Linked DNA regions of Homo sapiens. The protein of the gene in region 1 interacts with the protein of each later gene in a biochemical or structural test. Each region holds a gene or a part of one and is shown on either strand. Other genes may lie near its edges. The genes, in order: PTPRF, ACAN, LRFN1, LRFN5, PPFIA1, FYN and LRFN2.

What was found.
Region 2: the proteins of PTPRF (region 1) and ACAN form a complex in vitro, tested with the Homo sapiens proteins (one study listed by BioGRID).
Region 3: the proteins of PTPRF (region 1) and LRFN1 interact in a biophysical measurement, tested with the Homo sapiens proteins (one large-scale study listed by IntAct).
Region 4: the proteins of PTPRF (region 1) and LRFN5 interact in a biophysical measurement, tested with the Homo sapiens proteins (one large-scale study listed by IntAct).
Region 5: the proteins of PTPRF (region 1) and PPFIA1 form a complex in vitro, tested with the Homo sapiens proteins (one study listed by BioGRID).
Region 6: the proteins of PTPRF (region 1) and FYN form a complex in vitro, tested with the Homo sapiens proteins (one study listed by BioGRID).
Region 7: the proteins of PTPRF (region 1) and LRFN2 interact in a biophysical measurement, tested with the Homo sapiens proteins (one large-scale study listed by IntAct).

Annotation. Positions count from the first base shown.
Region 1 is NC_000001.11:43,607,383-43,610,882, forward strand, and holds part of PTPRF (receptor-type tyrosine-protein phosphatase F isoform 1 precursor), read left to right. Parts: intron 1-941; coding exon of another isoform or gene 942-953; intron 954-2,000; coding exon 2,001-2,116; intron 2,117-3,500. UniProt on the Homo sapiens protein: Possible cell adhesion receptor. It possesses an intrinsic protein tyrosine phosphatase activity (PTPase) and dephosphorylates EPHA2 regulating its activity.
Region 2 is NC_000015.10:88,855,436-88,858,935, reverse strand, and holds part of ACAN (aggrecan core protein isoform 3 precursor), read right to left. Parts: coding exon 1-3,500. UniProt on the Homo sapiens protein: This proteoglycan is a major component of extracellular matrix of cartilagenous tissues. A major function of this protein is to resist compression in cartilage. It binds avidly to hyaluronic acid via an N-terminal globular region.
Region 3 is NC_000019.10:39,318,064-39,322,078, reverse strand, and holds the start of LRFN1 (leucine-rich repeat and fibronectin type III domain-containing protein 1 precursor), read left to right. Parts: upstream 1-1,215; 5' UTR 1,216-1,286; exon of another isoform or gene 1,287-1,589; intron 1,590-3,720; 5' UTR 3,721-3,753; intron 3,754-4,015. UniProt on the Homo sapiens protein: Promotes neurite outgrowth in hippocampal neurons. Involved in the regulation and maintenance of excitatory synapses. Induces the clustering of excitatory postsynaptic proteins, including DLG4, DLGAP1, GRIA1 and GRIN1.
Region 4 is NC_000014.9:41,605,731-41,609,675, forward strand, and holds the start of LRFN5 (leucine-rich repeat and fibronectin type-III domain-containing protein 5 isoform 1 precursor), read left to right. Parts: upstream 1-1,145; 5' UTR 1,146-2,832; intron 2,833-3,945. UniProt on the Homo sapiens protein: Cell adhesion molecule that mediates homophilic cell-cell adhesion in a Ca(2+)-independent manner. Promotes neurite outgrowth in hippocampal neurons.
Region 5 is NC_000011.10:70,273,690-70,277,189, reverse strand, and holds part of PPFIA1 (liprin-alpha-1), read right to left. Parts: intron 1-3,500. UniProt on the Homo sapiens protein: May regulate the disassembly of focal adhesions. May localize receptor-like tyrosine phosphatases type 2A at specific sites on the plasma membrane, possibly regulating their interaction with the extracellular environment and their association with substrates.
Region 6 is NC_000006.12:111,702,453-111,705,952, reverse strand, and holds part of FYN (tyrosine-protein kinase Fyn), read left to right. Parts: intron 1-1,850; coding exon 1,851-1,954; intron 1,955-2,918; coding exon 2,919-3,068; intron 3,069-3,500. UniProt on the Homo sapiens protein: Non-receptor tyrosine-protein kinase that plays a role in many biological processes including regulation of cell growth and survival, cell adhesion, integrin-mediated signaling, cytoskeletal remodeling, cell motility, immune response and axon guidance.
Region 7 is NC_000006.12:40,584,565-40,588,858, forward strand, and holds the start of LRFN2 (leucine-rich repeat and fibronectin type-III domain-containing protein 2 precursor), read right to left. Parts: upstream 2,801-4,294; 5' UTR 2,377-2,800; intron 1-2,376. UniProt on the Homo sapiens protein: Promotes neurite outgrowth in hippocampal neurons. Enhances the cell surface expression of 2 NMDA receptor subunits GRIN1 and GRIN2A. May play a role in redistributing DLG4 to the cell periphery.

The DNA.
Region 1 (3,500 bases):
CTAGAGAGGTCGAGCTGGAGGCCCACAGGCCATGGATGCTCACTAACAGACATGACTGATGGCCTGCTGTGCCCGTGCCATCCGCAGCGGCCTCAGCCTCAGTGTGTCTTTCCCACTCAGTTCTCTATCGGCAGTGGCCACCACCTGCCCTAGGAGTCTCCCTTCCTATCCGTGCACCTTCCAGCCTGAAAGGGATTTCCAAAGATTTAACTTTGTCACTCTCAGTTTAAAACCTTTTGATGGCTGCCCACGTAAAGCCCACCCTCTTTAGCCTGACAGCCAAACACCTGGCTAATCTGACCCCTGCCACACTCCTGACATTGCGACACTGAACTCATTCAGTGTTCAGGCCCACACAGGGTGTGCCCTCTGCGGATCTCCCTCCCCCTGCCCACTTGGCAACAGCAATCTCATCGTTCAGGACTCAAGTCCATGCTCTGGTGCCTGCAAGGCCTTGCCTGGCCCCTACCCCTTCCTTGCACAGCTGTCCCCTGTGATGCTCCACTGCAAACGCAGCTGGGCCTGTGTGCCAAGCCTTCAGCCCCCAGCACTGGGCTGAGCCCACAGGCATGTCAGTGAGCACCTGGCAGATGAAGATATGCTAGTCTGTGTGTCTGAGCACATCTCTGCACCATGCAGGAGAGCCTGTATCCTGTGTGCCTACCCTGGACCCACTGTTCCTTCCTAAAGAGTCCACTCCTTCCTCCCAGGGTGGATGGACCTGTGGGCGGGTCCCTAAGGAGTGTCCCACAGATGCACTCATCCTTCCCACTTCCACCTGCATTCTGGGTCTGTCCAGAGAGGTAGACCCCCTCCCTGTGAATGTCATGTGGGTGCCATATAAGGGGCCTGCAGGGTCCCCATGTCATTAGAGGGCTGAGTGCTTGGTGGAAACTGTGACCGTTCCTTTCTTCTGTCCTTGCTTGTCTTTCGGGACCTAGTAAACAAGAAAGGTAGGAGTTGTTCCTTCTCTCTTCACACACCTCCCCCTCTACTTCTAATCCTTGGGCCAGCAGGGAGGGATGACGCTTTGACCAGAAGTCCCCTGGCCTATGGCTTTAAGCAGCAAACTGTCCAGTCAGCTCAGCAGGCTCCCTGGTTCAGGACTGAGTCCTCATTGGTGTGAGGAGGCAGTTTCTGTCTCACTCTTGCCAGTTCAACTCTGCAGAGGATGCTTCTTCTCTGGGGCACATACATAATACAGACTGCATTGCTTTCCCTGAGCGTACAGAGCTCACCAGAACCATCACCCGGCTCCCAGTTCTCTGAGAAGTTGCCTAAGTGCTGCGAGAGACAGTCTCGCACAGAGCAAAGAGCAGTCACTGTGTGGAACAGCAGAGAGGCATGTCCTTGTACCCACCTGAGCACACTCACTCAAATTCTTCTTTCCGAAGCACATGCGTCTGCAGACCACAAGTAGCCTCTGGCTATTTGTTGGCAGCTGAATCCTATGGTCTGTCTCTGACCCTGTCCTTGTAGATGGGAAAACTGAGGCCAGTGAGAGAGGACTCTGCCCAGCTAGGGTGACGCCTTTCCCGTCCCTCCCCTGCTGCCCTGGGCATTTACCCTGATACTCTGAGGGCCAAAAAGCTGGGGCCCTGTCTCCTGTGCTGTTTGTGTATTTTATGTGTCATTTGCATGTTTGTTCCCGGTGGTTCCTGCTACTCAGCTGGGTGGCCTTGGAGATAGCAGTCACTGTCCTGCAGTGACCTGCCTTCTATCCAAAGGAGCTGCTCGCCCCTGCAACCCCTTCCTCCCTGCTGCACTGCCCCTCTGCTCACGCCACACTCCTGCTCTCCCTACCCCCTCCCTGCCCTGTGTTCTCTCATGTCAAGGCTGTTCTGGCCCTGGCTCCTCCGCGCTCAGAGATCCTGGGAAGAGGTGGGGCAGTAGGAGGACAGAGCCGTGGACATGGGGGCTCCTTGGCAGCCAGCCATGCCATGTGTCACTGTCTCAGCCTGGACCTCAGGTTCTCACCAGCCTCCCTTCTGTCTCTCTAGGAAAAGGACCCACTCTCCGTCCTCTAAGGATGAGCAGTCGATCGGACTGAAGGACTCCTTGCTGGCCCACTCCTCTGACCCTGTGGAGATGCGGAGGCTCAACTACCAGACCCCAGGTAGGGCACTCCTATGGCCTGTGTGCCCCCAGCCCAGACCTAGCAGGCCTGTGGGTCTGTTCTGCAGGTCTCAGGGTCGCCACTGAAGTTCCTGGGCCGCATGCACTTGTTCCTGCTCCTTTTCTTCCTTTCTGCCCTTCTCCCTGTGCTCATCCACTTTGGTTGGAATGACTGGGGAGCCCCCATATCCTGCAGCTGGACAGGTGCCCCAGGCCAGGACCCTCTTAGGTGGCAAAGCCACTTAGCCACTGCCTTGTCTTCAGTCAAGGCCTCTGAATATGGGCTGAGGACCTCCCAGAGCCCACGTCTCTGCCACAGGGTGGCCAGTGTCTGGCGCACGCTCTGACGCCTCCACATGAAAGAGGGGCATGTTAGCAGTGGGAGATGCCTCACCAGACATCTGTGGGGAGATGAAGTGCCTGCACCTGAGCCTTCCTGGAGGCCGACCCCAGGTTTACCATACCACGTACCTGCCCCTTCTCCTAGCCACTCTCATGGGGCTGTCCACCTCTTCCTTCTACCTGAAATGTTACTCCTCCCAACACCCAGCAGACACAGCTCAGACCTCTCCTCTTGCCCACACCCCCACAGGGTTAGGTGTCTCTTCTTGGCTCCAGGAACCTCCCTCCTTCTTCCTTTTGACGCCTCTCACAGTGAGCTGGGATTACCTCAGTGACAGTCTCTGAGCTCTGTGGTGCCAGGAACTGTGTCTTGTCATCCCCCATCCCTTGTATTCAGCGCACGATGGGTTCTTGTTGAATGCCTGTGAAATGAACACACAGACAAATGAAGGAATGAGTGAACTAATGCATACACACAGGGTTTGTGTATGTATGAGCTGGTTATTCTGCATGTCAAATTACCCCAAAACTTAGTGGCTTAAAACAACAATAATTATGTATTATCTGTCACAGTTTTTGTGAGGCAGGAATTCAGACAGGGGCACAGCAGGAACAGCTTGTCTTTATTCCAGAAAGTCTGGGCCCTCAGCCGGAAGACTTGAAGGCTGGGAGCTAGAGTCATTTAAAGCAGGGGTTGGCAGACTATGGCCCGTGGCCAAGTACAGCCCACCACCTGTTTTTGTAAATAAATTTTTACTGGCTGGGCGTGGTGGCTCATGCCTGTGATCCCAGCACTTTGGGAGGCTGAGCCGGGTGGATCACCTGAGGTCAGGAGTTCGAGACCAGCTAATGAAATCCCATCTCTACTAAAAGTACAAAAATTAGCCAGGTGTGTGGCCCCTGTCATCCCAGCTACTCAGGAGGCTGAGGCAGGAGAATCACTTGAACCCAGGAGGTAGAGGTTGCGTGAGCCAAGATCGTACCATCGCATTCCAGCCTGGGTGACAAGAGCAAAACCCCATCTCAAAAATAAACAAATAAAT
Region 2 (3,500 bases), on another chromosome or scaffold:
GGGGCGGCAGATGCCCCGAACCCAGCTTCAGGATAGGCGGACGTCTCACTGCTAGATTCTGGGACTGATGATACTTCTACTCCAGACCCAGGGAGCACTGGGGTAGCTCCACTAATGTCCCCAGCTGTGGAGACTTTTCCACTGGACTCAAAAAGCTGGGGTGTGTGTGTCACAGGGGGCCTTTGGCCTAGTTCCTGAGAAATAGTTGGTTCAGTAACACCCTCCACGAACTCAGAAGTGATTAAAGTAACTTCTGGAAGTCCTGAGGCCTCTCCACTGGTGCCCATGGCTACAGAGGATTCTCCACTTACATTGGTGGTGCTGGCAAAATCCCCACTAAAATATGGAGTACCTGGTGGCTCTCCGCTGGGCTCTATCAGCCCGGACTGCAGCCCACTTAGGTCCAGAAATCCAGAATGCTCCCCAGACATGTCTGGTGCTCCAGAATGAGCACCACTGAGTTCTAAAATGCCAGAAGGCCCTTCTCCTGCCTCTTGGGCTGTTGGAGCCTGGGTTACAGATTCCACCAAAGTTCTGTCTACAAGAGAGACAGTGGGGAAACTAGATGGAGTTCCACTGCCATAATATGCTCCCGAGGGCAGGCTGCTCCCAATCTCAGCTCTGGAGGATTCTCCACTGACCTCAGCTATGCCACTTGGTAGGCCACTGAATTCCGGAGTCTGGGATGTAAACCCACTGGAATCGACTGTTCCAGAAAACTGTCCACTGACATCCACCATCCCAGATTTGCCTGACAGATCTGCCTCTCCGGAAGGGAGGCCACTGAGTTCCACAGACCCTAAGCCTTCTTCTTCTTTAAATGTAGTAGGGGCCACTTCAACCAAACTGGTGTCCACAAATGTAATCCCAGAAGATTCACCGCTGCCACTCGTGGTACCAGAAACCAGGTCAGGGACTCCTGATGTTGCCCCACTGAACCCTGGTAACCCTGAAGGCTGCCCACTGAGATCAGGGACCCCAGATGTTTCTCCACTCAGATCAGTTATGCCAAAGGGTTGACTAGTGCCATAAAGAACTCCAGATGCTTCTCCACTAATACCTGGTTGTCCAGAGGACAGCCCGCTAAGCTCAGTCACTCCAGATGTTTCCCCACTAGTGTCAGGAAACCCTGATGGCTGTCCACTGACACCAAAGAGTCCAGGTATTTCCCCACTGACATCAGGAGACCCAGATGCTTGGCCACTGAGTTCAGTTCCTGAAGGGAGTCCACTAGCTCTCCCACTAATGTCCAGCTCACTGGAGGGCAGTCCAGATATTTCTCCTGCACCACTGATGCCAATGGTTCCCCTCCCTTCCAGTTCACTTGCAGTGGAGGCTGTGACCACTTCCACCAATGTAGAATCCACTAGGGAAACAGTTGGGAATCCAGATGGAAGTCCACTAAAGTCAGGCAGGCCAGAGGGTGGGCCACTTCCAAGGTCCACCCCAGAATACTCACCACTAAATCCAGAGGGAAGACCACTTGTTTCTGGAGCTTGCCCACTTCCTAGAGTTCCAGAAGGCAGTTTGCCCAAGTCCAAGTCTCCAGAAGCTGACCCCACCAAGTCTTCTTTTCCAGAAGGCAACCCACTGAGGTCCTCAGCTCCAGAAGCTGAAGTCTCTAGACCCTCCCTTCCAGAAGGAAGCCCACTGAGGTCAGTCCCTACTTCAGAAGCAGAGGTCTCTAGACCTTCTCCTCCAGAAGGAAGTCCACTGAGGTCCCCAAATCCAGAGGCAGAAATCTCTAGAACTTCTTCTCCAGAAGGGAGCCTGCTGAGGTCCTCTACTCCAGAAGCAGAGGTCTCTAGACCTTCTCCTGAAGGAAGTTCACTGACATCCTCTATTCCAGAGGCAGAAGTCTCTACAACCTCTCCAGAAGGAAGCCCACTGATGTCCTCTACTCCAGAGACAGAAATCTCTAGAACTTCTCCTCCAGAAGGAAGTCCACTGAGGTCCCCTACCGCAGAGGTAGAAGTCTCTAGAACTTCTCCAGAAGGAAGCCCGCTGATCTCCTCTACTCCAGGGGCAGTAGTCTCTAGAACTTCTCCAGAAGGAAGCCCACTGATCTCATCTACTCCAGGGGCAGTAGTCTCTAGAACTTCTCCAGAAGGAAGCCCGCTGATCTCCTCTACTCCAGGGGCAGTAGTCTCTAGAACTTCTCCAGAAGGAAGCCCGCTGATGTCCTCTACTCCAGGGGCAGCAGTCTCTAGAACTTCTCCAGAAGGAAGCCCGCTGATGTCCTCTACTCCAGGGGCAGCAGTCTCTAGAACTTCTCCAGAAGGAAGCCCGCTGATGTCCTCTACTCCAGGGGCAGCAGTCTCTAGAACTTCTCCAGAAGGAAGCCCGCTGATGTCCTCTACTCCAGGGGCAGCAGTCTCTAGAACTTCTCCAGAAGGAAGCCCGCTGATGTCCTCTACTCCAGGGGCAGCAGTCTCTAGAACTTCTCCAGAAGGAAGCCCGCTGATGTCCTCTACTCCAGGGGCAGCAGTCTCTAGAACTTCTCCAGAAGGAAGCCCGCTGATGTCCTCTACTCCAGGGGCAGCAGTCTCTAGAACTTCTCCAGAAGGAAGCCCGCTGATGTCCTCTACTCCAGGGGCAGCAGTCTCTAGAACTTCTCCAGAAGGAAGCCCGCTGATGTCCTCTACTCCAGGGGCAGCAGTCTCTAGAACTTCTCCAGAAGGAAGCCCGCTGATGTCCTCTACTCCAGGGGCAGCGGTCTCTAGAACTTCTCCAGAAGGAAGCCCGCTGATGTCCTCTACTCCAGGGGCAGCGGTCTCTAGAACTTCTCCAGAAGGAAGCCCGCTGATGTCCTCTACTCCAGGGGCAGCGGTCTCTAGAACTTCTCCAGAAGGAAGCCCGCTGATGTCCTCTACTCCAGGGGCAGCGGTCTCTAGAACTTCTCCAGAAGGAAGCCCGCTGATGTCCTCTACTCCAGGGGCAGCGGTCTCTAGAACTTCTCCAGAAGGAAGCCCGCTGATGTCCTCTACTCCAGGGGCAGCGGTCTCTAGAACTTCTCCAGAAGGAAGCCCGCTGATGTCCTCTACTCCAGGGGCAGCGGTCTCTAGAACTTCTCCAGAAGGAAGCCCGCTGATGTCCTCTACTCCAGGGGCAGTGGTCTCTAGAACTTCTCCAGAAGGAAGCCCGCTGATGTCCTCTACTCCAGGGGCAGTGGTCTCTAGAACTTCTCCAGAAGGAAGCCCGCTGATGTCCTCTACTCCAGGGGCAGTGGTCTCTAGAACTTCTCCAGAAGGAAGCCCGCTGATGTCCTCTACTCCAGGGGCAGTGGTCTCTAGAACTTCTCCAGAAGGAAGCCCGCTGATGTCCTCTACTCCAGGGGCAGTGGTCTCTAGAACTTCTCCAGAAGGAAGCCCGCTGATGTCCTCTACTCCAGGGGCAGTGGTCTCTAGAACTTCTCCAGAAGGAAGCCCACTGAGGTCTCCTACTCCAGAGGCAGAGGTCTCTAGAACTTCTCCAGAAGGAAGTCCACTGAGATCCCCAAC
Region 3 (4,015 bases), on another chromosome or scaffold:
AGATACTCAGTGGGGTTTGAGGGAAGGGGTGGGGTTCAGCTATGGGACAGGGGATGGGCAAAGGGGTCTGAACTAGGAAGGAGCAAGGCATTCTGGGCTCTATGGAAGTCACAGGGAGGGGGGACTTTCAGGGTCCAAGAGAAAGAACTGGAGCAAGAAGGAGGCAGGGTCCTCAAGGGGGCAGGACTAGTAGGGGGTGGGAAAAAATTGGGGCTAATTGGGGAGTTTTGGAAACCAAAGGATGTCTTGGAGGAGAAGGAGAGAGAAAGGTGTAAGGTCAAAGGGGTGGAAGATGGTTTGGGGTCTAATGGGGTTCATGGGGAAAGTTTAAGGGTCTTCCATAGGGATAAGAGACATTTTAGGGCCCCCTAGAAGTTAGGCATGGTTTGGAGTTCATACTGGGGGTAAGGGAATGGGTTAGGGTCCTTGAGGGTAGAAGGACATGGCTGGGGGTCCCCAAGAAGGAGTGGAATATGATTTGTGGTTCTGGTGGCTGTAGAATGTGGTTTGGGTCCCCAAAGGGAGTCAGGCACCATCTGGGATTTGGCTGACATATGGTCTGAAGTCTCCCCCGATGTTAGGGTATGATTTGGGGTCCGTGAGGGAAGGGGTGTGGTCTGGGGGTCTATCTGAATGTTGGGATATGATTTAGGGTTGCTGGTGGGGTGGTCTGGATCCCCTTGGATGCTGGGATATGATCTGGGATTCTTCTGGGTTTGGGGGCATGGTCTGGGGTTCCTGACAGTGTGTGGGTCATAGTCTGAGGTCAAGCAGGAGAGCAGGGCATGATTTGTGGTCCTGGGTGGCCCTAGAACATCGCCTGGGTTCTCAAAAGAGGTGAGGCCTGATCCGAGGTCCCCCTGGGTATTAGGACGTGATGGGAGGTCTCTGTAGGGAGATCCGGGGTCCCTAGGCCAGTTGGGGCGTGGTCTGGGGGGGTCTCCGGGGAGGCCGGCGGGGCTGGGGGTGGGGCTGGGGAAGGGTCGGGGGCGGGCCCGCGGCGGCTCGGCAGTGGAGAGGGGTCTGCGGCGGGTTCGGGGCGGGGATCCCGGGTGTGCGACCGCCCCGCCCGGCCGCCCCCACCAGTCGGCGCCCCCTCCCCCCTTGCGGCGGCGGTGGCGGCGGGCGGCGCGGAGGGCGGAGCTCGGCTGCGGCTCGGGAGGGAGGGCGGGAGGCGGGAGGGAGGCGGCCCCGCGGCACCGCGCCCCCTCCCCCGGCCCTCCCCCCACCATGGCGCGGAGCGAGGCAGCGGCGGCGGGGCCGGGCCCGGGGCCCCCCCGGGCTGGGTGAGCGCGGCCTGCAGCGGCCCGGGAGCGGCGGGCGGGGGCGCGGGTGTGTGCGCGGGTGTGAGCGTGCGAGCGTGCGAGTGTGTGTCCGTGGCGCTGCGGCGGGCCCGGCGTGCGCCCGCGCGGCCCTATGTGTGCCCGGTGCCGGCGTGTGCGGCGCCCTGCCCGTGTGGCCATCGGGTGTGCGCGGGGTGTCGAGCCCGGCCGGCGTGTCCGGCTGTGCACGCGTGTCCCCCCGAGCGGCCGCCCCTCCGGCTGTGTGTCTGGGCGCTGTCGCGCGCCCATCGGAGGGGCTGTGTGCAGGTGTGTGTGTGCGTGGGTTGTGTGCCCAGGTGTGGGTCCCCCCCAAGCCCATGTGCGTGCGCGACTAGCTGCTCTGGGTGTTTGTGTCCGGGTTGGATGTCCATCCCCGGGTCTGTGGAGCCGGGTGTGCCCGCTCGGGTGTCCATTTGTGTGTGTGTGTGTGTGTGTGTGTGTGTGTGTGTGTCTGCGGGTTGTATGTCTCCGAGGGTGTGTATCTGTGAGTCCACGGCAGGTTGCTGGCTTGGGGGCTGAGGCTCGGCGCCCAGGCCTCGGTGTGGATTTGGGGGAGGGGAGTTCGCCGCTCCCTCGGTCCATGTCAACTGGGGGGTCCTTAGCGGTCCTGGGGGAAGCGGCCATGTCTTCCCCTTCCCGGTGGTTGCGGGGGGGGGATGGGCGGCCAGGAGGTGGACAGATGGAGGGGGGATGAGAGGCCGAGAAATGGACAGATGGGCCCTGAGGTGGGGGTTGGGGGGCGAAGACCCGGCCCTTCCCCACCCACTCCACCCTAATTCCCCCACCGGCCAGACATCTGCAGACGGAGCCAGAGTTACCTCCATCCTGATGGCCAGGCTGGGGAACCTTTGGGGCTGCTGGTGGGAGGATCTCCTTGAAACGGTGATCTAGGACTCAAACCCCCAAATCCTCTTGAGTTTCCACCTGCTGAACTCTGACCTCTGGCCTGGCTTTTGCCCTGGTTTTTTGGGGGTGTGGAGGGCAGGATGCTGAATGTGCTGCAGGGATGTTAGGATTTCTTGGGCCTGGGAAGTAAGTAGGTGGGGTGGTGGGGGGGTGCCTCAGGGCTGGGAGGAATGTGTGTCCAAGACTGTGTGAGTGTGAATCTGGGCCTGTCTACTGACTGTGCTACTGTGGTTCAGTATTTTCTATGCATTTGGAAGTGTGTAAATCACAGGACTGTTGTGTGAGCATGTGTCTGTTATGAGTGAACATCTTGGCGTGTCTGCAAAGGTGGATCTTTTTGTGCCTGTGTGCGTGTTCCAGTGTGGATCAGCCTCGTATCTGTATGCTTGTGGTTTTGTGTGTGTGTGTGTGTGTGTGAGGTATGTATCTGTTAGCGTGGTGCTGTATCAACTTTGCAACATGGAGATGTGTGAAGTATGAGTGTGTCTAGGCATTTAAGAGTGTGCACTTGTGTATGTTTGCACAGGTGTGTGTGTGTTTGTTAGATGTGTGTGCCCCTGTGTGCTGGTGAGTGTGCAAGGTAGATCTGTTGTAAATGCATGTACCTGGTTGTCTGTTAGGGGGCACATGAGTTTCTCTGTTGTATCTGTGCATTTGTGTGTGTGAACTTGCATGGCAGAGTCAGTGTTGTACATGTATTGTTGCATGCAGGTGTGTCAACCTTGAGGGTATGTATCCATCTATGTTGTGAGTCTGTTTGTGTTTTGGTGTTGGTCTCTGGGGGTTGTGTATGTTCAGACATGTATGTGAAAGACACATGTGTCTGTGCCCTGGCACAAGGCTGTCCCTACTCTTGGGTTCAGTGGGTTTGAGGCCCATGTGGCATGACCTCTGGTATACTGGGGTCCCGCCTGGGGTCCCTGGACACAGTGTGTCCATATGCCAGGCCAAGTGCCCATAGAGGGCGGAGGGCACACAGATCATGTTGCTATGTTCATAGAAATCCAGATGTAGAGACTTGGGTTGTGGGCTTGCGTGGGTTCTGACATGGACACACATGTTGGTGTGGGCAATAGTATCATGGCAAGGATGGGAAACTTTGGCCCTTCCCCAGCTCTTGGTACCGTTCAGGACTTTGGAGTTGAGGGGCTGGGATGTAAACTCTTGGGTTCTAATGGAGGGCCAGAGGTCTGGTCTGGACTCTTGGGTCAGAGGGAAGAGGGGGCTGGGGTTCTTGGCTCCTGAAACCCCAGAGGACAAAGGGCTAAAGTCCTCGACTCCTGGGCTTTGGAGGGTGAACAACCCTGAGGCCTAATCTAGGATTCCAGAGAGGACTTCTGGGTTCCTGTGAGACTATGCAAAACCCGCCACAGGAGGACTGAGAGCGTGATCACACCAGGGACTTCCTTGGCCGGGATGGTCTCCAAGGCAAGATCTGGTGCACAGAGAAGAGCCAGAACGATGCTAACAAGGTGGTTCTGTTCCTTTGCAGGTGCTGGCCCAGGCCCTGACTCCCTGAAGAGAGGTGAGTAGAGCCGTAAGGCTTCAGAGAGAGAGAGACATGGGGGGTGATGGGGCTTGCTGTCAGCCAGCTGGGGGTCTGGAACCCTGCCTCGCATGGATTTCAGTTCAGGGGATGACAGTTTCCTGAAGGACCAGTTGCCCACCACTCTGTCCAAGGCTGGGGAGTGGTGACAAGGTCAGGAACATCAAAGTTGGGTGAGGGCTTGTGGTGGCCAGGTGGCTCTGGGGAGCAGGTGGGGGGTTTCAGGCCAAGAGACATTCAT
Region 4 (3,945 bases), on another chromosome or scaffold:
GGAACAAAATGAAGGAGCTCCATATCCACGGAGGCCACCCGTATGGGCCTTTGCCAAGTAGGGCAGAAGAAGCCCTTGTTAGCCAGCTTCCCTTTGCAACTTCCTACTCTTCCTTTGGGTACAGACTGGTGTCTGGGCTAGCTAGGATCACAGCTGAGAGCGAAGGTGCTCTCAGTGTCCGAAGACCACGTGCTGGTGAACCCACAATGAGAAGCGAAAGGGTTTCAGGACTCTAGCAGAAAGGAAGAGCAAGATTTCACTCAGGGTTTCTTAGAAGAAAGAGTTAACTTTGCTCACTGGCTTTTCCAGGATGGAGGGAGTGGGGATAGGGTCGGGGAGAGAAGCATTGGGAGTCTTGTCGGAGTCTCAAGCAAAACCAGGCGAGGGCTCCGGGCAGATCCATTCCCGCAGGGCCCTGTCTAACCTCCTTTCCAGTCGCACCTCTTTCCTGCTTTAGACCCTGCGTCTGTGCCGGTGACCTTAGAGACTAGGTCTGGCTTATGAAGACTGTTGGGCTCCCTTTCTGCCCTTCACATAGTAAAATGTGACCAACTGCAGTATTCGTAATGTCTGATGCTGAGCTGAGTTGATTCCCAAATATAAATGTTCTTTTCAGAATCCGCTCCCATCTGATTAGTAAGCAAATCACCACCCACAACTAAGGGGACAGCGGAAGCCAGCCTCAGATGACTGAAACCCCCAAGTCAGTAGCTCTCCTCAAAATTTCCGGCGGGTTATTATAGATAATGACTTTTCCCACCGCCCTAAGCAGCCGAAGCTTGACTCAGTGATGATTCTCTCTATCCCGTAACTGCGAGGAAGTGGGCGATCAGCAAATTGCCCTTTTGCAGGAGGCTGGGGACGCCCCTGGAAGTTCGCTTTCATTCTCCAGGTTTTCTGCCTTTTCCCTTCCCCCTTCCTGCAACGCCCCCGCGCCTCCTCAGCCTGGGGATTTCCTGGCGCTTCGCCGGCCCTCTCCGCAACCCCCTGATAAATCGGTTCAGAACCAGTCTGGCTGGGAGGCCCGAGGGCTGACAGCAGCGGAGCGGCCCCGGCCGGGGTCTCACGGACTCTCGGGGTCTGGCCGACACGGCCGCTCCCGTCACTGCAGCGCGGGCTGAGCTCACGGCCGCGCGCCCGCCGCCGCCGCCGCCGCCGCCTTCATGCTGCAGCGCAGGGCTCAGTTCCACGCGGCCAGGAGGCCGCCGTTGCCCACACGCGACGCTTTGGGAAGCCCAGCTCCCGGGTCCGCCCCGGCCGCGGCCGCAGCCCCGGACCTCGGCTGCTTGCCTCGCGCCTGAACTGCGGACTCGCCCCAGCGCGGTGGCCAGCGGGCGGGGCGCTGTGTTCCGCGGCGCGCAGGGAGGCGGTGAGCGTGTGCAGAGCTGCCCGAACGGAGGACTATGTATGTGTGTGCGCGTGTTTGCGTGTGTTTGAGCGTGTTTTTCCTTCTTCCCTTGAGGATGTGAATTGTTTAGCAGCTGGCTGCTCCCTTAGGATCCTTGACTTTGGGGAGCTCTGGCTGTGAACACAGCCCACCCATATAATCCATTTTGCACGGTCCGTTATATCAGAAAAAAAAAGCGCAACTGGACGGGGGTGGGGCAGACCAACGAAACCTAGACAGACACACACACACTCAGAGGAGAGAGGAAGAATTGAAAGACTTGAGAAGACTTTGATAACCTCCCTGCTGGCCCTTCTGTGTTCCGGAAAGATCCTGGATGTTGGCTACCTTTTCAAGTCATCTTGGCATGTCTCTAGTGTTTTGTAAGCCGCTTTCCAGCTAGCTGCGTGTGTGTGTGCGCGCGCGTGTGTACGCGCGCGCCTATCTGATGCATTTGACTGTCTTTTATCCAACTGCCCAGAAGCAAATGTGTTAACTCGGCGATGCCCCTTCATGCCCGGGTTCTTGCAGAGCTCTGAGGACGCCCAGACCCATTTTCCTGGCTGGATTTGGAGCGGCTGCTGGGCTGTGGACCCAGGTGTGTGGATCGCTTTACCCAGAAGCTTGGAAAGCGCCAATATTAACCTGCTTCCAGGTACATCACAAGGTCAAGAGAGTGTCTTGCAGCCCTCTTGTTTCCGTGTATCTACACCTTCTTCTCTTGGCCAGAAGGATATTTACGTTTTGGTTCACAGCATTTGAAGCCAAAAGTTCAGCCCTTCGAACTGGTTTGCTATACAAAACAAAACAAAACAAATAAGGTAATGAGGATTGCTTATTAAACTGCTTAACAAAATCCCCGACTCTTCCTCAGCCCTTTCTCGGCTCCCTCCTCCCCACCAAAATGTCACCAGCTCTTGAATTACGTGGATTCGGGTTGGAGGAGAACTTGAAGGAAACGTGATTAAAGGGCTATGCGAGAACGCTCTCTTTGCTGCCCGCGGTCCGGTGGGCTTCGAAGCCAATCGTGAGAAGGACCGGTTCCCTCCGTGCTGCTTCCTCCCCGTGCAGTGCTGGGTGTGCGTGTGCGAGTGTGAGTGCAAGTGCGCGCGCGCCCGGGTGCGAGTGTGTGTGAGTGTGAGCGTGTGTCTGTGTGTGCGTGCGCGGCCGCCCTGCCTCTGCCCGCTCCCCGGGCGCGGAGCCGCGGGTTTCATGGGGCGATTGCAGCGATTCCCCCACCCAGAGCGACCTGCGGGCAGCGGCGGCAGTGGCAGGAGCCGCCTTTCCGATTCCCTACGATGCGGGTGCTGAGCTATGGCAAAGGGCAGCGAAGTGACGAGCGAGACCCGCGTACGACTGTGAAAGCCACCTGGAGCCACCTTGCCGGGATTGTACCTGCAGGCAGAAAGTCTTCCTACGACCGTCTTTTCCCTTAGAGGCACCAGGTAACAAACCAACGATTACTCGCCTCACCCAATTTCCTTTTGATCTTGTTTCTAGTGTCTTATCTGCATTGCAGGCTACTTTACTTATTAATGTTTTGAAAATCATTGGGAAGGGTTGGGTATCCAAGGGCGCCTGCTCTGTGATTTTGTAATACGATTTCTAGTAGGTGAAATATAAATCTATACCTAAGCACTTAATCTAGTAGTGAAAGCTTTGAGAATATGGATGTGCTCCACCCTGAGGATATTTTTTGAGAGCTAGGCGTGTGGAACCTGTCTGAAGATGCCAGAGATCAAAATTCTGTGTTTCCTTCAGGCTGTGGTTGCCACGGACCATTTGGTACCCAACCCTTTCCAGATTGTGAAGTGTGAGTGGGTGTTTGGTTTCCACCCATCATTTAAACCAAAGATCTTTTCTACCCTTTTCTACCTCTGGTGCCAGGTTGTTTTCCTTTCCTTGTTGTGGAGGAGCTTGCCAGATCTTTTTAGTAGTTGTAAATTACGCATCTGGAGACTTTGACTCGAAATGGAGTTTTCTTGGAACTTGGTTTGCATGAAAGGGAATACATATTGTCACGGCTGTGTGTCTTGAGATATGGTGTTTAACTGCCAGGACGTGCTTTTATGTAGCAGAATAAATCCATGAAAGAAGTCATTTTTATATCTAGCAGAACCAGGCTAAAACGATAGCCACCACCCAACATTCTCTCCAGCTGTATTGTCCCCGTCACGGACACGCAACTCCTTTGCGCGTTTTTTTGTTGTTGTTGTTTGTTTGTTTGTTTTATCCCTGTATAATAGATATTTTGAATTTTTTTTTTCCGGTGCCTTGATTTACAAGGAGCAGGTTGGATTTGCGACTGCCTAATTAACATATTGGGTCTGGTATGTTAAAATGAGATTTCCATGGCCGGCTGAAGCAGAACAAATTTAGTTAACTTCCAAAGCCCTTTACCCTGGCGCCTTTTTTTCCCCTGAATTCCCTTTCGTCTTATCTCAGCGCCCGCCCCCATCGGAAAATTTCACTCCTTTCTCGAAGACATTAGAATTAACAAGATAAAGCACTTCCAAAGTAGTCTCATCAATGTTTTATTCCATAGTGAAGACGGTCTG
Region 5 (3,500 bases), on another chromosome or scaffold:
AATAAATATAAATTAAACTGAAATATATAAAACAATGACACAAAAGGTAGGAGGGAGTTAAATCCAGTTCAAGTATCTAAGGACTTGACCCTGGGAGACACAATGAGACTGTGCCTGGAAAAAAAAAAATATATATATATATATATATATATCTCAATCAAACAAAAAAAAAGCAAAAAAAAAAAAGTAGAAATTAATGCAATAGAAAACAAATGTAAGTAGAAAAAAATGTAAAGCCGAAAGTTGGTCCCTTAAAAGAACTTACAAAATTGACAAACCCCCAACAAGACTGATTAAGAGATAATATATGAATTACTGATATCAAGAATTATTAAAAGGGAACATCACTACAGATCTTGCAGATAATAAGGATTACAAACCACTTTAAACTTACAAATTGGAAAGTCTGGGTGGCCTGAACAAATCTCTAGCGGGGAAAAATGCTTTATCTAAATAGACACATGAAGAAATATTCAAAATCCTACATCTACCTATAAAATTAATTCTAAAATTTTTCCTTCTCACAAGGAAAACCCTGTACCAGCTGGTTTTGCCAAAGAATTATTTCAAACATTTAAGGAAGAAAACACAAATTTCGTAGGAACTCTTCTAGGGAGTAGAAAAAGAAGGAATACATTCCACCTTGTTTTAAGAAACCAGCATAACCTTGATACCAAATCCCAACAAGGGTACTGAAGGAAACTGAAATTATAAGTCAATCTTTCTCGTGAATATAAATGCAATAATCCTAAACAAAATACTACCAAATATAATCCAGTAAAAGGAGAATACATCAAGATCAGGTTGGAATTATTCTACAATTGTAAATTTTTTTTAAAAGGGAGGTGCTCTTTCTCAGGAGCTCCTGAAGTTGCTTCCCCAGGCTACAAACAATATGCAATTAAAAAAAAAAAAAAAAGCAAGGCGCAGTGGCGTGCGTCTATAATTCCAACTACTTGAGAGGCTGAGGTGGGAAGATCACTTTAGCCCAGGAGTTCAAGGCTACAGCGAGCTATGATGGTGCCACTGCACTCCGGGCTGGGTAATGGAGCAAGACCCCATCTCAAAAATAAACAAACAAAAACAGTTAAATTCCCACATAACAGAAAAATCACATGACTGTCTCAAAAGATGCAGAAAATCCATGTTAAGAAATTTAATACCTGCTCATGGTTTTTAAAAAACTCTTGGCAAACTAAGAAGAGGAGAATTTTTACATTTTGATAAAGAATATCTACAGGGCCAGGTGTGGTGGCTCACAGTGGTAATCCCAGCACTTTGGGAGACCAAGGTGAGAGGATCGCTTGACACCAGGAGTTGGAGACTAGTCTGGGCAACCGAGTGAGTACCCTTTTCTTAAATTACCAGATCTCAAGACAGACTATATCTATGGGAATTTAGACATTGTGCTATTTGTGCAAAGATGACAAAAAGATCAAAGGAGCAGAAGAGAGTCCAGAAACAGACCCACACACTTACAGTCACTGGACTGAGATGACACTGCATGTAGTACACTGGGGAAAGAATAGTCTTTTAAGAAATTATGCAAGGTCAACTAGATATCCATTTAAAAAAAGAAAGAGAGACTCTTGGCCCCATCGCATACCATAAACAAAGTCAATTTCAGATGGAAGATTAAAAAATAGTTTTTAGAAGACAATGTAGAATATCTCATGAACTTGACCAAGCAAATTTCTTAAACAGGACACAAAGAGCATTAAACATTACTGAAAAGATGGATCAACTGGGCTACATTAAAAATTTTACACTTCTATGTATCAAAAGATACAACTGAGAGAGTGAAAAGGCAAACACAAGAGTCTAAAAACAATCTGTCATGCACATATGTACTCAGAATATAGAGAAAACTCCTTCAAATCAGTAAAAAACAAAACAGACAACCCAATCAACAGATGGGCAAAAGATAACCGTTTCACAAAAGACATCCAGGTGGCCAGTGAACACAGGTAGAGATGCTTTACCTCTGCATGTTCCTGGCCATCAGGGAGCAGCAAATTCAGACCATACTGAGCCACCTACCAGCTAACAGCCACCAGAACAGCTAAAATGTAAAGACCCAACAATACCAAGTGCTGAAGAGCATAGGAGCAACTGACTTCTCATACATTGCTGGGGTAGTACAAACTGTCACAACCACCACTTTTGGCACTCTCTACTGAGGCTGAACAAATGCACACACCATCATTTGCATTCCACTTCTTTGTAGAAATCCAACAGAAGTGTACACATATCCTCCGGCCTGGGCAACATGGTAAAACCCCACCTCTACAAAAAATACAAAAATTAGCGGAGGGTGGTGATGCGTGCCTGTATTCCCAGCTACTTGGGAGGCTGAGGCAGGAGAATCGCTTCAACCTGGGAGGTGGAGGCTACAGTGAGCCGAGATCATGCCACTGCACTCCAGCCTGGGCAACAGAGTGAGACCCTATCTCAAAAAAAAAAAAGTTTATAGACATCTGCACCAAAAAACAAACAATATTAGGGGAGCACGTGTAAAAACTGGAAACAACCCCAAATGTCTGTGAGCAGTAGAAAGAATAAGTTCTGTCTGTTCGTGCACGGGATGACCAGAGAGCAGGTGAGAATGAGCAAGCTGCATCTCACAAACATGATGCTGACGACAGAATGAAGAAGCAAAACATACAGATTATTTTACTTCACTTAAACAAAGTCAAGAACAGGCAAAAGTAATCAATGGTGAAAGGTCAAGACCTTGGTTAGCTCTGGGGGACAACTACTGGGAATAGTTAGGAGGGGACTTCTAGGAAGCCTGATAATGTTCCATTTCTTGATCTGGGTGGTGGTATGCAAGTGTGTTAACTTTGTGAAAAGTCCACTGAGATGTATACTTACGATTTGTGAATTTTTCTGCTGTATGCTATAGTTATGTATATTTTTAAGTACACTCTAACTTGCCTCCACAATGTGCCAGGAGCACAAATGCACTTCCTGGACTCATTATCTGGTCACACTACCAGCCACCAAAGATGAACCAGATGCCAGGAAAGGGAAGGGTCCAAAACAAGTTTACTTAATAGTTTCCATTTTTGAAAGGCTGGAATCAGGTGCTCAGGTGGTAACGTGAACCGTTGGCATCATCATGTTATCCACTGAACTAGGCATTCCCAGGCTGCTACACTGAGCAGTGCCAGAAACAAATCACTGAGCAACCATGTCACCAGTGTGTGTGACAACCTCCACAGCCTGCGACTAACTGTACAAAACTCCTGTCACTTCCCTGACATGTCTTGTGTGCCCATTCTTTCCAAAACCTACCTTATTAAGTATATTAGTATTTGATATACACTTCAATACGTGTACCTTAAATTACAAATACAATAAAATCCTGGTAAAACATAAATTGGCTACTTCTTTTAAAATTGTAGTAATAAAATTCAACATAAATAAACTTGGTAATTTATAAGATTGAAATAAGAAAAATCTTAATGATTCTTTAATCCAACAAAAAAGGAACATAG
Region 6 (3,500 bases), on another chromosome or scaffold:
TACAGGGTCCACCGTGATGGCTCCCTCCTGTAATCCCAGCACTTGGGAGGCCAGGGCGAGAGGATCACTTGAGCCCAGGAGTTTGAGACCATGCTGGGCAACATAGGGAGACAGTCTCACTCTGTCCCCAGGCTAGAGTGCAGTGGCCCTGTCTCAGCTCACTGCAACCTCCACATCCCTGGTTCAAGCAATTCTCGTGCCCCAGCCTCCCGAATAGCTGAGATTACAGGCACATGCCACCATGCCCAGCTAATTTTTGTATTTTCAGTAGAGTTGGGATTTCACCATGTTGGCCAGGGTGGCCTCGAACTCCAGACCTCAGGTGATCTGCCTGCCTCAGCCTCCCAAAGTGCTGGAATTACAATCATGAGCCACCACTCTTAGCCTCTACAAAAAAAATTTTTTTAGTTAGCAGGTGTGGTGATGTGCACCTTTAGTCCCAGGAGGCTGAGGTAGGAAGATTGCTTGAGCCTGGAGAGGTCAAGGCTGCAGTGAGCTATGATTATGCCACTGCACTCCAGCCTGGGTGACAGAGTGAGACCCTGTCTCAAGAAAAAAAAAAAAAAAAGAAGAAGAAGATGATGAACACAGATCACAATCCAGGTGCTTGGTAAATAAATGCCTTTACTTATCCAAGTCCTCACACACCTAGGGGAGGAAAACAAAATACAAGTAAGTACTCATGGGCGTTTTTCTCAGAATTCTTATAGGGAGGAAGTTATTGAAAATACTATTCCTTTATTCATATCATATCTATCTAATCTGACTTTTTTTAATGCTTGATTATCTTCATATACATTAAGACTGTGTTTTGTTATTTCCCAGCAGTTACAATAATGCTTAGATATCAAGAGATTCAAGAGTTTTGTTTTTTTGTTTATTTTTTGTTATGAGACAGAGTCTCGCTCTGTTGCCCAGGCTGGAGTGCAGTGGCGCAATCCTGGCTCACTGCAACCTCCACCTTCCAGATTCAAGCAATTCTCCTGCCTCAGCCTCCTGAGTAGCTGGGATTACAGGTGCATGCCACCACACCCAGCTAATTTTTTGTATTTTTAGTGGAGATGGGGTTTCACCATGATAGCCAGCATTGTCTCCATCTCCTGACTTCATGATCCACCCACCTTGGCCTCCCAAAGTGCTAGGATTACAGGCATGAGCCACCATGCCTGGCGTTTGTTTTTTTTGTTTTGTTTTGTTTTGAGACACGGCTTTGCTCTGTCACCCAGGCTGGAATACTATGGCACAATCTCAGCTCACTGCAGCCTGGGCCTCCCAGGTTCAAGTGATTCTCCTGCCTCAGCCTCCCGAGTACCTGGGATTACAGGTGCCCACCACCACACCAAGCTAATTTTTGTATTTTTAGTAGAGCTGGGGTTTCACCATGTTGGCCAGGCTGATCTCAAACTCCTGACCTCAGGTGATCTGCCCACCTCGGCCTCCCAAAGTGCTGGGATTACAGGTATGAGCCACCATGCCCAGACTAGAGTCTTTTAGATAAGTGTGGAAAGGGTCTCCTGCAGTAACCATTTCAAATCAAGGTCTTAGATTTCTGGTTTTTTGCATACAGGTGGCAGTTTTAACACAAACCAGTTCTGGTCATGTCTAGAGGGGAGGAAAACAACCCACAACTCAAATCTGATTTTTTTTAAAGAGTGAAAGAGATGAATTAGGGATAGAATCCAGGATAGATTGAAAAGGAACTGAATTAAGCTAGAAAAAAAATACATCCAGGGAAAGGTTAAGGACTAAATTGGAGGAGAGGGGAATTCATGGGCAAAAAAAAAGCCTATGCTGTTGCATTTTGTAAATGACTATTTCAAAATATTTTCTTTCCTTGATCTAATTTAAAGGTGGTACTTTGGAAAACTTGGCCGAAAAGATGCTGAGCGACAGCTATTGTCCTTTGGAAACCCAAGAGGTACCTTTCTTATCCGCGAGAGTGAAACCACCAAAGGTAAGATAACGAGTTGAAGAAGTTGGCTTGTCATTCAAATCTGTGGATTAGTCAGAGGGGATGAAAGGCTTATCTCTAATGTACAAGGATTTTAAAATGGCACATACCCTCCCTGCCTTGTGAGTGGAGTCCTGTTTTCAGTCTTCCCTCCAGGCTCTAAAACTGCAGACAGCACCAAAAGAACTACAGAGGCCCCAAATCAAGACCTTCCTCCTGAAACGGGCTGGATGCAGCTACACTGCTCCAGGCACACAAGATCGTAGAATTTTCAGAAGTCCTTTAGAATTTTGATTTTCTGAAATCTTAGTTCCTCAGGTGCCAGTCATACAGGTTGTTTTTGCTTTCCTTTTGTTTTTTAAATAACTGAGGACTTCACTTCTCTTCCTCCAACTGTTGGACTTTTCATTATTTAACAACTCCTTACAACCCACAAGAGGAGACAGGTCAAGGAAGAAAAGAGTAGTGGCCTCTAGCTTAATTTGCCAGATTATCCATTCCTGTAAAAAGTGTTGTAAAGCAGAAGCTTGAAGCTCACTTCTAGAGAAACAAGCCTTAGATTTCTTTTGCACATGCTGCTGCTACCTCCCAGTATGCCCCTGGGTAGAGAAGACAAGGGAAGCAAGCTCAGCCATTCATCGTGGTCCTTCTTTACCCTTGGGGGAAAGGAGTGTTGGAATTGAGTCTACGCTGTATTATGCAACAAGGGGTACCGAACAGTGTGTTTAAGAAAAATGTCCAGGAAGCTTTCAGTCTCAAGGGCAGAATCATTTTATTGCTAATATATTCTGACATTTGCAGAACATCAAGAAGCATCTTCTTCCTGTTACTGAGTGGAGATGCTGTGTGTGTGTACATGTGTGTGTGCATCCTTGGTAATTATTAATCAGAGTCAAGAAAATGAGGCCTAAAAAGCAAGCTGATACTCTAAATGATTGGAGCTGCTAATGCTTTCCACGTTTACCAGGTGCCTATTCACTTTCTATCCGTGATTGGGATGATATGAAAGGAGACCATGTCAAACATTATAAAATTCGCAAACTTGACAATGGTGGATACTACATTACCACCCGGGCCCAGTTTGAAACACTTCAGCAGCTTGTACAACATTACTCAGGTAACCTTAATTCTAACTACCTACTAACCATTTGGATGCTGGAGGGAGTGGATAGGCCCAGAGCAGGAAAGTGGAAAGGGGTAAAACTAATATGTACAAAATCACTTATAGAGTATGTTTTCTTTGCCAGCCCTTAATGGTAGGGCTTGGCTGTATAGGTTCTATTGCTATTGTTCTACTGTTGTTATTATTAGTTCCACATGTTTGTCCGAAGATTCTATAATATTTTTGTTTCCCAAGTAGAAAGCAATAGGTTAAATTTTAAAAGTTGTTTGTTTTTTCATCTTCAAGTTGTCTTTTCCCATTCCCCGCGTTGCATGTGAGAAAGCAGTCTCTCGGAGGGCGCTTACATGGGGACTCCTACAAGGAATATTGTGTTTCCACTATCACTTTACCCTCAGCACTGTTGCAGGAATAGCTGCACGTACATTT
Region 7 (4,294 bases), on another chromosome or scaffold:
TGCTTCCAGTCTAGCAGCCTCCCCCATCAGACTGTGAACTCCCTAGATGCTAATATCTACCTTAGGAAAGGGGAGTTTCTGAAAACAATTAATTCCAATTTCACTTCTCCACTGTCCCTGGGTAGACAGACCCCACGCCAGGAGCTTATAAGCCTCTATACATCCACCCTGCAAAAAAGGAGAGCAGAACCTGCTCAACCCCACAGGCTGAAGAGGCTTGGCAAACTGGCACTTGGAGGCCAGAATCCCTGTTTTTTTTTTTTCCTTTGGAGCTGAAGCAAAGATAAGAAGAGCAATTCCTCCTTCAGTCAAAGAAGGACTCAGTTGGCCAGAAGGCTGCCTGGTTTCCCCGGTGGCCCCACCCACTCTGACTGCATTTTCTTCCCATCTATCTTGCTTCTCCTCCTCAGCCTCACCTCCTGGAAGCTCCCAGCTCACCCTCTCTCAGGCCAGACTCCCCAGCTTCTCACGTTTCTGGGCCTGAGCAAAGAACTGGCACTTCACAGAAGAAGGAGCCCTGAACCCCAGCCTCCAGCCCACAGCAGGCAGGCACCCAGTTCTTCTAGACAGGAGATGGAACTGGGAGCCAACCTTCCAGAGGCTGAAACAGAAATGCCAAGTTTGCTGTTTGCATCCCCAGGATGAGGGCAGGAAGATAAATAATTACATTCCTGGTCAGGAATTAGACCAGAAACTCTAAATTGAGGGCTGGGCAGGGGGCCTGAGCAGAAGCATGTGAGGAGGCCAGAGGGAGATGCAACTCTGCACTCCCAGCCAGAGTCAGAAGGGAAAGATGACATTCCAGCATCAGCAGAAGGGCCCAGGCAGCTGGCATGGTCGGCGGAGGATGACGGCTCCAAGTGCAGGCCTTTTGGAGCTTCTGAATCCTCCCTACAGGACTCTGACCCCCTTCAGCCTCTGATGTACCCCACAAGGAAATGACACTACCCTCAGGGCTCTGCTGTGTGTGGCTATATAAAGCTCCTGCCAGAGGGCAGCGACCAGACCAGGGCACAACCCCAAGACCTAGTTCCCTTGCTCCCCACCTTGAGTTCCAAATCGGCCCCCACACAAGAATAACAGCCCACATAGAACCTCTAGCCCTGGCCCCTGGGAACTTCACAGCCCAGGGAATGGCAGTTTCCTCCCTAGCTTTGCTCCTCCCCAGCAGCAGGGGGTCAAATTCCTGAAGCTTCCCCCTCCCCCAGTACTAGAAGGCCAATCAGGCCATGGAGGCCACAGCTGCCACCTCCCTGAAACATACACATGCGTACACACACACACGCGTACACACACACACACACACACACACTCCATTGTGGCCAGGGGAGGGGGTCATCATCTATAGCCATGCCTGTAACTCCAACTCAAGAGTGCAGGCTCTGACATGTTCCCTGTCCCTGCAGGTGTCTGTCCGTCTGCAGCTGTCTGCTGTCGCCGGGTGCATTTGGCAACAGTCTGGCTCAGTCCCTCTGCGGTCTCCACTCAGGCTCTCTTCTCCCTCCTGCTCTGGTTTTCAGAGGCTCTATCTCCCTAGAACTCTCTGTCTCTGTCCTTTGTACCGGGCTGATGGGAAGACGAGTAGGACACCTCCCTCAGAAGGTCTGTGCAAAGTAAGGCACTGTCCACCTCGGAACGGTCTACTGCTCTCCCTCCTCCCTGCCCAGGCCAACCTTAGAACCAGGGCAGGGCTGGGTGGGAGACAGAGACCTAGGAACCCAGGCATGGCTAATGCCACTTTCCATATTGCTTCATCATGCCATTCTGATGCCCCAAGCTGCACACACACACAATCCCCCTGATCTGCTTTCTGCCTGAGGCCAGCATAGGGTCCCTGAACCTGCCCTACCTGCCCCCACAAACTGCAACCATGCCTTCCTTCCTCCCATCCGCTCTGCATCAACCCTTCCGCACTTGGCTTTACCCCACCCCACCCAGTCCACAGAGCTCAGGGAGTCCCCGGCGCCCCCACCTAGCCCCCAGCAATGGCTCTAGCCAGGCCTTGCATGTGCGGAGATGCAACAGAGTGGTCTGGCGGCAAAGTTCTCCTGCTGTTTTCAACGGTTCCATCCACCCGTGGCTCCCCGTCTCTCCATCCGGCTCTCCAGTCTCACATGGACCCGGCTCTCCCCGCTCCCCGCCAGAGTTTCACCCCCACTGTAGGAAATAAAGACTAAAGAAAGGAAAGGAAATCTCTCGCGATAAGGATGGGCGAAAAGAGAAGGGGGTGTCCGCATGAGCACCTAGGATGCGGGGAGTCTTCAAGAGAAAAAGAAAGGGATGCAAAGTTCCCGGTTCCCTCGGGTGCGTTCAGCCCCGCGCCGAGCTCCCGCGGACACCCGGGATCGCAAAGACGCAGCGCCGGCGACCACTCACCTGGGCGAGGCAGCATCTACCCCCGGCTGGGTGGCACCGAGGCCGGCTCCGCGGGGCGCCCGGGCTCCCCGGCTCGGCCACGCATCCTTCCCCGCCCGAGACAGACTCGAGCTAAACCCTCCGGCGGCTCCGGCGAATGCAGGCAGATGGTGGCCTCGGACGTCCACGCGGGGAAAGCCCTGAGCCGCTTATTCAGTTATATCCATGGCATTTAGCAAGAAGAAGGGGGGAAAAGCACAACTTGTTCTCTTCTCTTCCAGATTAAAGAAAAATAATAATAATAATCCCTCCCTAGGAGGATGCCGGTAGGATTTTCCGGATCGAAGAACCCCAGGCATTCCCAGGAACCTCGGGCATCTTGGAATGTGGGGTGTCTTCAAGTTCAGACGAGCCTGCCGGGTTGTGTATGTGTGAGTGTATGTGTGTCTCAGCGAGAGGGAGCCAGGCACTCACACCCACACGCACACACAAACACACTCCCCCGTACTCCCCGCATGCACACTGCCCCCCACGCGCGCGCGCATACGCGCGTACCCGGTTTCTCTCTCCGCTCCACACACACACACACACACACACGCACACACACACACACACGGATCACACGCTCCAATCTGGGAGGGAGTCGGGCGGGCTGCGGAGACAGCGCAGGGCCAGCAGTGGAGAAAACCCAGCGGCCAGAGGCGCCCAGGAACCCGGCGGCCGTGCGCACCGTCCCCGCCGAGCTCTCCGGCGCGGCAGCCCCCAGTGGCGAACCGCGGAGCTGCAGGAGCCGAAGGCAGCCTCTGCGCCCGCTGCCCTGCCCGCTGCCGAGCGCACCCGCTTCCGAGACGACCAACACCGCCGCGGAAACCAGAGGGATTCACGGTCCTGGCAGGGGTGGCGCGGGGACGCACGGTGGGGCGGGAGTGGGCTGGGGCCGCAGTCGCGGAGGGAGGTGGGCAGGCCGCGAGCCCCGGAACCGGGAGGGCGGTCTCCGCGGTCCAGCGGCACGGGCAGCCCCTGCGGAAGGCGAGCCGGGCGGCCAGGGCTGCACCTCTGCAGCTGGCGACGGCGCTGCCACCTCACGTGCCTAGCGCGCCCTGCAGCCGTCAGCCCGCCGCCTGCTGGAGGAAAACCCGACCGCGCCGGCCCTAGGCTGGGAGTGGGGGCTGGGGCGATCGCGCCCACCCAGTCCTGGGGCCCAGTTCAGATTCTCGAATCCTGGTAAGGGACCTATGAATAACGAGCGCCCCGTGCACGCACACACACGCACTTTGACTTTTCATGATTATTACAAGAATCAGTGAAGGGTGCAGTGGCGCCAAGTGTTTGCACAGCATCTTTACAACTCTTCACTTGTTTGATCTTCTCAGCAACCCTCATTTGATGTATAAGGAAACTGAGGCCCAAAAGAGTAAAGTGACTTGTCCAAGGCATGTGGTAGGTAGCGGAGACCCTACTCAAAGCAGACTGTGAGCTCACAGTCAGAACACCCAGGTCTGGCCAAGGTCTCGTCTTTGGTTATCCTCTCGGTTCACTATAAACAACTAGTTACCAGAAAGGTAGGACCGTCCTCTGCCTTACTGGACTCCCCAAGAGGCATTTCCTTCCTTCTAAAGGAAATGAAATTTTGAGATTCCTGTTGGTACTCCAGCTGGTAAATCCAGGGGCAGGAAGAATGTCAATGTTGCAGTCCTTCTCTTCTCTCCTGGTGGCTAACACATCCCGTGCACCTGTCCCGGTTACCCACAGGGAGGCACATGTTGCATGTGGATGTGTCTCTGCAGCCCAGGATTGGCTCGGCTGGATACATCTGTAACATACGACCCTGTGTCCTCTCTACACACATGCATAACTGCAGAAGCCGAGGCAGCTGGTCCTCATGTGTGCACCCTCCACATGTGCACCCCGGGAAACTGCCAAACTGGCATGCTGCATA